Regions from separate parts of the Homo sapiens genome. Here region 1 is linked to region 2. The links come from fine-mapping of genetic effects on gene expression. A gene starts in region 2. The other region holds a variant in brackets. All regions are shown on one strand. Distances are between the middles of the regions.

Region 1 (5,376 bases), 42 kb before region 2:
TTTCATGTGAGGAATTTTCCATTTAGGAAACTTATTAGCTGTTTTTCTTTTTTTTTAATGTGTAGATTTGAAGTGGAGGGAAAGGGACATGAAGGTGTGAGAGAAAGCTGTAGCTTATTCTGACACTTCATTTTTGGTATGGCTTGTTGCCATTCTATCTTTCACTGTGTAACATAGTCCCCAAAGGTTTTTGTTTGTTTTTTTGATTTTTTTTGTGTGTGTTGGGGAGGAGGTTTTATTGAGATTTAATACACATACCGTACAATTCACTGATTTAAAATGTACAATTCAGAGGTTTTTAGCCTATTCACAGGGCTATGCAACCACAGCAGTTTTAGAACATCTTCATCACCCCAGAAAGAAACCCTGTACCATTTAGCTGTCATTTTCCCTCACCTCCCTGCTTTTCCCCAACACTCCCACCTCTAGATGTCTTTGCCTGCTTTGCGCTGCTGTAACACAATAACCTTAGCCTGGGTAATGTATAAGAACAGAAATGTATTTCTCACAGTTTTTGGGGGCTGGAAAGTCTGAGATCAAGGCACCAGCGTCTGGTATCTGGTGAGGGCCTTCTTGCTTTGTCTTCACATGGTAGAAGAGAACCAGAGAAAATGGAACCTCCCTTTCACAAGCTCTTTTATTAGTGGCCTTAATACATTCATGAGAGCAGAGGGCTCATGACCTAAACACCTCCCAGTAGGCCCTACCTCCCAACACTGTTGCATTGGGGATTAAATTTTAATTTAGTTTTGGAGGGGACAAAAACATTCAAACCATAGCACTACCAACCACTAACCTGTTTTCTGTCTCTAAAAATTTGCCTACTGTAGACCTGTCATATAAATGGAATCTCACTGTGACTGCTCATATTGCGCATTAATATTCCATTGTATGTGTATACCACATATTATTTATCTGTTAATCGGTTGATGGACTTTTGGGTTGTTTCCACTCCTTAGCTTTTTTTTTGTTTTGAGACGGAGTCTCTGTGTCACCCAGGCTGAAGTGCAGTGACACTATCTCGGCTCAGTGCATCCTCCGCCTCCCAGGTTCAAGTGATTCTCCTGCCTCAGCCTCCTGTGTAGCTGGGACTGCAGGCACCCGCCACCATGCCCAGCTAATTTTTGTATTTTTACTAGAGATGGAGGTTTCACCAAGTTGGCCAGGCTGGTCTCAAACTCCTGGCCCTGAAGTGATCCACCCACCTCAGCCTCCCAAAGCGCTGGGATTACAGGCGTGAGCCACTGTGCCTGGCCACTTTTTAGCTATTATGATTAATGCTGCTGTGAACAGTTGCATACAAGTTTTTGTGTGGATATGCGTTTTCTCTCTTTCTTTATCTCTCTCTTTCATTCTCTTTCTTTCTTTCTCTCTCTCTCTCTTTCTCTGTCTCTCTCTCTTTCTTTCTTTTCTTCTTGACAAAGTCTCGCTCTGTCACCTAGACTGGTGGGCTGGAGTGCAGTGGTGTGATCTCGGATTACTGTAACCTCAGTCCCTCAAGTAGCTGGGACTACAGGCATGTGCCACCACACTGGCTAATTGTTTTTGTATTTTTAGTGGAGATGGGGTTTCGCCATGTTGTCCAGGCTGGTCTTGAACTCCTGACCTCAGGTGATCCTCCAGCCTCGGCCTCCCAAAGTGCTGGGATTACAGGCGTGAGCCTCCTCGCCCCGCCGGGATGTGTTTTAATTTCTCTTGGGTGTGTACCTAGGAATGGAATTGCTGGGTTATATGGTAACATTTTCCAAAGTGGCTGCACCCTTTTATATTCCTCCCAGTCGTATATAAGGTTTCTCCACATATATAAGGTTTCTCCACGTCTTCCCTGACTCTTGTTATTTTTTGTCTTTTGACAGACAGTAGCCCATCCTAGCCATCCTAGCAGGAGCCATGTGGTATCACATGTGTGGTTTCGATTTGCATTTATTCTAGATACATGTTCCTCATGAGACATACAATGTAATATTCCCAAAGGTTTTTATGCCTTCCATACATGGATCTAGATATGATAACCATTCTGATTGAGTACCTGCTCTGGGTGAAGCTCTGCAGTGGCAGCTGTATGTGGATTATTTCTTTTGATCCTCATAATAACTCCTAGGTATACATTATCTTCAGTTTACGCATGCCAAAACTGAGGTGTGAAGGAGTTAAAGAACTGGTCCAGGGCCATACTGTTAGTAGTTATTGCCTAAGGTCTGAGTCACACCTGAGCCTTGCTGTATGCCCAGCCTCTGCTCTGCACTAGGACTTGTGTTGACAGGGAGCTGCAAGCTCCTCTGCTGGAGCTTGGAGTTTAATGGAGTTCCTAACACGTGTGTGCACTCTTTCATGTACATGTGTTCATACCAGGCCCAGCATCCAGTGTCAGCCTTGACCTGTCCTGTCTCTGAGTCCTTATGTCCATACCCCACCGAGTTCCTTGTTATGTATACTGTACAGAGTCTGCTGCATCTCAGTTTTCCACTGTTTATTTTATGATTATAAATAGACAAGATAGATAAACGTCTTTCATGGAGGGGCCTTAGCATAGTAAAAGCAAAGTTAACTCTGGGAGGATTACGGAGGATAATTTTGGCTTTTATGTGAGAAGAAATTTCCAAGTAGCTTAAAGCTGTCCCTCAGTGGAATCAGCTGCTTGGTAAAGAACTTTGCAGAACTGTATATGTCCAAGCAACAGTGGAGGTACCCTTCTCTCAGGGTGTTGTAAAATGCATTTCTCAGGGTGTTGCAAAATGCATTTCTAAACTGGGCCGGACCCTGAGGCTTCCTCCAGGTTGGAGAAGGACTTGCCCTTACCAGAGTTGACATCATACAGCTGTAGAATGTCGTGCCACTTTCTCATAAGACGTGGCTTCTGAATAAACATAGTGCTGAACTCTTGGGAGATAACAGGGTAAAGATGTCTTTATCCTTCAAAATTTAATCTCCTTTGAAAAACGTACTTTTAACTACTCAGACTGATATAAAACTTCCAGCTTTTATAGATGGGAAGGACTCTGATTAAAGATGTAATCAGAATAACATCTTCAGTTTGTAACACCTCTG[G/A]TTCTGGGGTCAGCCAGATCTGTGTTTGAGTCTTTTTTTTTTTTGAGACATAGTTTTGCTCTTGTTGCCCAGGCTGGAGTGCAATGGCACGATCTCAGCTCACTACAACCTCTGCCTCCCAGGTTCAAGCAATTCTCCTACCTCAGCCTCCTGAGTAGCTGGTACTACAGGCACATGCCACCACACCCAGCTAATTTTTGTATTTTCAGTAGGGATGGGGTTTCACCATGTTGGCCAGGCTGGTCTCGAACACCTGACCTCAGGTGATCCGCCCGCCTTGGCCTCCCAAAGTTCTGGGATTACAGGCATGAGCCATCATGCCCTGCCCTGTGTTTGAGTCTTAATTCTGAGCTATCCTTTCTGTGTCACCTCGGGCTAGTTACTTTACCACTTAACACCCCAGTTTCCTCATCTGGAAAACAGGTATAGTAAGAGTATCTCCTTTAAATAGAGGTTAAGATTCTGTAATGCTTGTCTGGCACATAGCAAGTATATACTAAATGTTAATCATTTGAGGGAGGGAGAATTAGAGATGTGGATGGTTGTTAAAAATCTAATTTTTAACTTTTTCTCAGAGGAAACACAAGAATAGAAGAGGCTTGTGAAATGTATACCAGAGCTGCAAATATGTTCAAGATGGCTAAAAATTGGAGTGGTATGTACAAAGTTTTTGTTTGCTTTTTAGGCAAATGGTTTAAAATCACTTTGAAGGGAGAAATGACTGTTTTCCCCTTGAAGAGCAAGACTATTGGCCCCAGAGACAGATGTCAGTGCTGAATAACTGATGTGGCTGCTACTGACATATGGAGACTAAAGGGGTGTGCTCTAAGTGAATGAAGCTGGAAAGCCTGGCTTAAGTTTAAGCACAGGGACAGTGTCTGTCTTAGTTTCTATAAACTTCTTAATACAGTAGGCATGTGGTAACTTAAAATAGTTAAAATTACTTGGAATTAGAGTAATCTTTGCTTCTTACTAATATGTTCAAATAAACACAGTGCCATAAGGAATGAAAGTTGGAATAAAAGTCATTAAAACTAGTGGGATAAAGAGAATTTTCTTTACCTGAACATTGGTTGAGAATGACCATTCCCTGCTACGCAATAACTGATTGTGATTCCACTGAGAACTGAAAGTGGGGTTTGGGGGGAGGGGGATGGATTTACATTAACCTCAATAGACTCTTGGTTATTTTTTAAAGTAATGCTTTCTACCCAGTGAGACCGGGCATAACAAAATTCACAGGATTATTATTTTCATTGGTCTGAGATGGGATGGCTCTTTGAGAGAAATTCATCCCTCTCCCTTCAGCGAAAGAGATCTTTCATGCCTTAGTGATGGGATATTTCTGTAGTGAAAATGGAGACCACCGTTGACCAGAGCAGGGGACGTGGGTGTTGTGCTCTGGCTCACAGCTGCTGTGGGATTGGAAGTGGGACTCGCCCTCTACAAGCTGTTTCAAGGCAGACACTTTAAAATCATTTCAAAGGAGAAAATGCTTTTGAGCTAGATGATTCTAAAAGGTCTCTTCTGGCTTTAAAGATCTTTGTAAGAAGTTTAGTTTTAGCTAAGGCTTTAGATATGCTATTTTTCAAAACACACCTACGCCTGAATTATATTGTATTTTTAAAATGGTGGAGAAAACAGTTTGTTTCACATTCCCTCTTTTATTTTGTTCAGGTCTTATAAGTAAAAAGTGATCTTACCTGAAGAGATCACTTACTTACTTATTTATTTACTTACTTAATTTGTTTATTTATTTATTTATTCGAGACAGAGTCTCACTCTGCAGCCCAAGCTAGAGTGCAGTGGTACAATCTTGACTGACTGCAATCTCTGCCTCTGGGGCTCAAGCGATTCTTATGCCTCAGCCTCCCTCGTAGCTGGGACTACAGGCACGCGCCACCACGCCCAGCTAATTGTTTGTATTTTAGTAGAGACGGGGTTTCACCATGTTGCCCAGGGTGGTCTGGAACTCCTGAGCTCAGGCGATCCACCCACCTCGGCCTCCCAAAGTGCTGGGATTATAGGCATGAACCACTGTGCCCGGCTGAGACCACTTATTACTTATTGTATCTGGTGATGAGGTATTCTAACCTTTGGAAATTCCATTTCAGAGAGGCCACTGATCATGTATGTAACTAAGGAGGCTTTGTATGTGCACCCCGCGTCATCTGTTGCCTGGGGTGATGCTCTAGCCTCCTGACATTGTCATACTGCTGCACTTTTCCAGTCTGTTTCCATTTATGTCTGAGGTTGCAATTTTTTGAATTTTGGAAATCAGACCTTGGCGATGACCTTGAGCAGTAGGATAGGATATAAATAACTCCC
Region 2 (5,376 bases):
TGTCCTTGGACTTCTTCGGTGGCAAATCTGAAGACATGCCATTGCTGGCTCTCTCTCCTGGGTAGTCCAAGGAATCCGTGAGACCACTGGGGTGAGGGCCATCGGTGGCCACACTTGCCCTGGGGGCAGGAGCAGCACTAACTTGGGAGCCACTGCTCACCTCCACCTCCTGAGACTCTGAGAAATTTTGCAACTCCAAAAGTACTGACTCTAACATCTGTTTCTTTAATTGAAAACAAGTTTCTGATAAATCCAAACATTTCAGCTTTTCAGCCACTTCCAGCATTCGCTGCACCCGATCTTCTTCCACCTGTACCTTTGCAGTGTAGACAAACTCAAGAAATGAAGCAAAGTCAGCAACCTGCACTTCATTTAAGTAGACATTAGTCCTAGTACCATCCACACTCTTCTCATTAAGGAACACTTCCTTAAAAAACTTGCTGGTGGCAGCCAGCACTGCCTTGTGGGCCATGAAGTCTTTGCGGACACCCTGATACTCCACGCTGACTGTCACGTCACACAGGTGACCCAGGAGGCGAAGCTCATGCATCTCATGCAGTAGGTTAAATGGGGAGGATTTGGATTCCAGCAGAACTGCACCGCTTTCCATCTTTCTTCCTTCCAAAAACAGCTTTGAAAAAGAAACAAGAATTATGCATGAGCAACCACTGATGCAAAAGGACTAAAATTTATGAGGATTCCTTCAGTACTTGAGAGGATATAGACTCATTAACAACCTAGCTTTACTCAGGTAAAGATTCGAATGACATTTTACTTCTTAGCAGTTTTCTAAAGTGAGGTTCCTCATGCATTTTCCTAAGGTAATAAATTGGCATGAAAAATAGTGTATTCTAAGGTTTCCTCCAGTGATAAACAAATGATGGAAGTTGTGATTAGTGAAATACATTAACACAGTAATTTGCTCACCAAGGTCACTGTCTAATTTGCTTACATAGTCCCCAAAACTGTAAAAGAATTCATGGCAACAATAATGTCTAGTTCTCTGATCAGGAAACCAGATAATTAAAACACATAGCCACCACCATCTGGGAGCAAATCCAAAACCTCAGGGAATCATTTCTGCCTTTGAAAAGAACCAACTAAATAACTACTTTCCATGAGGAAAACTTCTTGGAAAAGTAGTTCACAATTCATCGCCCATTCCCAACATCCTAAACTCCTCAGAATTTGAATTATTGTTACTCTACTGAAATAATGTTAAGTTCCACAGCTTTTACAAGCTGTGCTACTTTGAGCAAGCAACTTCTCTGAACCCATTTCCTCCTCTGAAGAAGGCTGACCGGCTGTTACCAGGGTTCCATGAGCCTGAAACTTGTTGGCTAGTTTATTGGTTTCCCACACATAGGCCAAGGTGCTACAGTGATCCCCATTTCATAGATGAGGACCTATCAAGGTAACAGTCAATGGCTGGTTGGGACATGAGCCAGGGCCTGGTGCCCGGATTCAACTCAGACTACTCAACACACTCTTCCCCTCAGCCTTGCCAAAGGCAAAGGGCTATCTTTAGCCCCTAAATCTTTCCACTGCAGCGGGCATGCAAATTTCACCAACCCCACCTAAGGCCTCCAGATACCGTCACCCCATCGTCATTTCTGCTGCTTTGCCACAAACTCCCTGAATGTGTTTTCTCCCTGCCCTTCAGCTCCTGAATCTACCTTCCTCTTTGATTCCTGTTTCCATCCATCCAAAGCACATGCCTTCCTTCTAGCCTCCTTCGGCCAGACCACAGATGTCACCTCGGATTCAACGTGTCTAGAAAAAAAGTTGTCATCATCTTCCCTGATAAACTAGTCCCACCCCTCTCCCCTTCTCCAGTCTCATCAATGAGACCGCTCCCCACAACTAGCAGTCCCTCAAACATGGAAAAGACTGCCCTCTGGGAGTTCCGCTGTAAACAGGTACCTATGAGGCTTGATCAATGTCGCCTGAAGGAGACGCCCCAGTAAAACTGTGAGAACACTGACAAAGCCTAAGGAAGGGATCTATAAGAGTGGGGCTCTTATAGAGCCACTGGGGTTTCAGTGGTCCCAGCCCCAGCCTGGGGAAACAAGACTGCAGAGGGCTCTCTCAGCCTGATGCCCTGACTTCCCCAGACCTCTGCCAACAGGGCCCTCGAGGAGACCTGATTTCTCAATCAACAAAGTGGGTTCTGAGCGCGATTTCCTATGTTGCTTGGCTACTGGAGTGCAGGCACTGGAGGTGGCGACAGGGCAGTCTGCGGCCGGTGACAGCTGCGTATCCGCCGAATCTCATTGGCATTCCGGCCGCCTCCCAGTGCGCCCGGCATCTGCACCAACGTCGGCGGCCCCTGAATCCCCGAGGCTCACGGGGCCAGAGCCCTTCCAGGAGACGCTGCTACCCGCAGCCCAGTCCACGGCCACAAGGGCCGGGGTTTCCAGTGGGGCTTAAATCCGCCGCTGTCCTCGCCGCCCTCACGGCACCTCCCACCCTTCCCGCGCCACTTGGCCGCCCCAGCGCCCGGACGCCGCTCGGCCACTCCAAAGACGACCCAGAGAACAAACTACTGCAGCCACAGAGAAGCCCCTCCTCGGCCCGACGCGCCGCCTCCCGACGCGGGCATCCGGGGCCGCGTGGATCAGGCCCTCGGGCCGCCCCCTGCCCCCGCTCCCGCATCCCCGAGACGCGCAGGTCCACAGAGCAGCCGGGGCGCGCGGACAAAGAGGCGGCGGCGGGCGGCGAGGGGCCGGAGCCAGGCCTACGGGCCGCGCACTCACCTCCCAGCCGGCGCCCCCGCTGCAGCCGCTGTCCGCTGGACCAGGCCGGTAGGAACGGCCGGCCCGGCTGGGCGTGGCGTAGCACCCTGCGCGGGCACCGCCGATTGGTCGCTGCAGGCCCCTCCCCTCCCGCGGCCGGCCCCGCCCCTGGCGGGGCTGAGGAAGGGGCTGAGCCACACGTCGGGCGGCGGAGCGGTTCGGGCAGTTACCTGATCTGGCCGCGCGACTGACTGGCGACGCCGGATTGCGTCACCCGCCGCATTGCGTCACCCGCCGCGAGCCAAGGCCTGCGCCTGCGCAGGAGACAGCGACGTCTGCGCTGCGGCACGCCACAGGGGGGCGGGGCCAGTCGCGAAAAGTCACGTGAGCGTCAGATTCGCGTGGTCACTTTCGCGTCCATTCCGGGCTTCTGGCCGCAAGGCGCCAGCGCTTCCGGGCCCCAGCAGCCTGCGGTCAGGGCCTGCAGCTGGCTTCCCACTAAGAGCTGCTCACGTCCCCGAGGCCGAGCGCACCCTTAGGGCACGGTGGCCACGCGAGGGACCTCGCGGAAAGCCGGGCTTGGAGCTGGTACTCACCTTGGCTACTAGGGGCGCAGATGCCTCCACGGGCGCTGGAGAACTGGCGCCAGGCGGGGCTCGGCGCGGCGCTCTCCTCTGGGGCGCTTCTTCCGCGGTGCCCCCGCCCTGCTGGGGGGCTCGGCGCGCCAGGAGCCGGGACCGCACCCTGCCGTCTTTACTGCAGGGCTTTATTTCCAGGAGTTCCCATTCGGGCGAAAGCTTTGTTCACTACAGAACTTCCCCAGAGACCCATCCACTCTTCGGGGAAAGCACAATTGATTCCCTAAGATTCGCTGACTCCTCGAAATCTTGCTGTTTCCACCAATTCTTGCTCAATACTAACTAAAGCCCGCTTTGAAACACCTTCCTTGAGTCAGACTTCCAGTTCTCAATAAACTGACCTTGCCTTTTGCTCCCAGCCATTGGTAAAGCTTTGCCAGGTCATGCTGTCCCTTACTGTGGCCAGCAGTTAACTCAGCCTTGTCTTACCGACACGTTGAGTTTGTAATGTTTGGGGACTGTCAGGACAAATACAAATTTAAAATAAGGTTTACTACTTCCTGTTGAAAATATGAGATTTCCCTCCCTTTTTCTTCGAACATTTACTTTTAGAAAATTGGTAATTAGTGTAAGTACTTTTTCCTCTCTTTGAAATATATAAATCCTTTTGAAGACTAGTTAGGCCTTTTTGTGCGCTTTATAACCTAGATATGTCTTTTTCTAGGACCTAGGAGCCATCTCTTTAAGTATCAAGGGAGTTAATGCCCCTGTCTCCCAGTTTTAATGGGGGAGTAGGAGCCTAACTTCAGTGGGCCCTTTGCTCCAACTTACAAAATTATCTCATATCATAAAGATACAAGTTTCTTTTTCCTCTAGATAAAGCCAATTGGCTAACACAGAGGATCATCCCAAATATCAGGTTAGATGAACTGTGTGTGATGAAAAATGCTGCCAAGTTCCCTTGAGAGCTAGTTATTGTTTATCTTGAAAATGTGTGTAATAGATTGCTTGGCTGCACAAAAGAGTGAGATTTCGTTCTGTCTTTGCAGTCTCTTAATGGATTGCCTGTGATGGGTATCACATTCTAGTTTAATGCTTATTCAATTACAAAGTGTTTTCTTTCTCCACTACCTTTCTGAAGAGGGTTGGGAGATTGTACTTTTAATTATATTTCCTGAACAGGAGCCAGCTTCCCACACATAGTAGGTGCTCAATAAATATTTGAAGAATGAATGAGTGACAGAAATCTTTCTTAGGCCGACTCTCTATATTTGCATTCCATGATTTGAAGAAATTGGAATGAACGCAGTTTTCACCCATGGCTCCAGCAGGCCCAGAATCGTGTTTTATGATTTTGTTTTGCATTACAAAAAGGTGGTCAGGCACGGTGGCTCACGCCTGTAATCCCAGCACTTTGGGAGGCCGAGGCGGGCCGATCACTTGAGGTCAGGAGTTGAAGACCAGCCTGGCCAACATGGTGAAACCCCGTCTCTGCTAAAATACAAAAATTAGGCCAGGTGCGGTGGCTCACACCTGTAATTCTAGCACTTTGGGAGGCTGAAGTGGGCGGATCACCTGAGGTCAGGAGTTCAAGACCAGCCTGGACAACATGGTGAAACCCTTTCCCTGCTAATAATACAAAAATTAGCTGGGCGAGGTGGTACATGCCTTTAATCCCAGCTATTCAGGAGACTGAGGCAGGAGAATCGCTTGAACATGGGAGGCAGAGGTTGCAGTGAGCGGAGATTGCACCACTGCATTCCAGCCTGGGCAACAGAGGAAAACTCTGTCTCAAAAAAACAAAACCAAATTAGCCGGGAGTGGTGACAGGCACTTGTAATCCCAGATGCTCAGGAGGCTGAGGCAGGAGAATCACTTGAACCCAGGAGATGGAGGTTGCAGTGAGCTTCGATCATGCCATTGCACTCCAGCCTGGGCAATAGAATGAGACTCCGTCTCCGATTATGTTAGCTAGCATAACATAATGCTAGCTTATCCATTCAATACTGAAAGGATTGCTTTAGTTGAGTGTCTTAATAGCTTTAAAAATAGAGGTCATAAGA

The links. PIP is the estimated chance that this variant, and not a neighbour inherited with it, causes the effect. A credible set is the group of variants that fine-mapping cannot tell apart.
Region 1: its variant is the best candidate, but not a certain one, in a credible set for the expression of GZF1 in whole blood (INTERVAL, PIP 0.50).

Annotation. Positions count from the first base shown.
Region 1 is chr20:23,401,320-23,406,695 of GRCh38, reverse strand. It overlaps NAPB (NSF attachment protein beta), which reads left to right. Exons shown (of 11, transcript NM_022080.3): 2 at 3,624-3,703. Among named protein-coding and RNA genes, the nearest start is that of NAPB, 17 kb to the left of the region's middle. The variant G/A (reference allele first, on the strand shown) is at 3,049.
Region 2 is chr20:23,359,618-23,364,993 of GRCh38, reverse strand. GZF1 (GDNF inducible zinc finger protein 1) reads right to left here and starts at 2,812. Exons shown (of 6, transcript NM_022482.5): 1 at 2,757-2,812; 2 at 1-631. The coding sequence starts at 610. RefSeq lists enhancers at 1,213-1,272, 3,087-3,346 and silencers at 2,527-3,016, 3,437-3,526.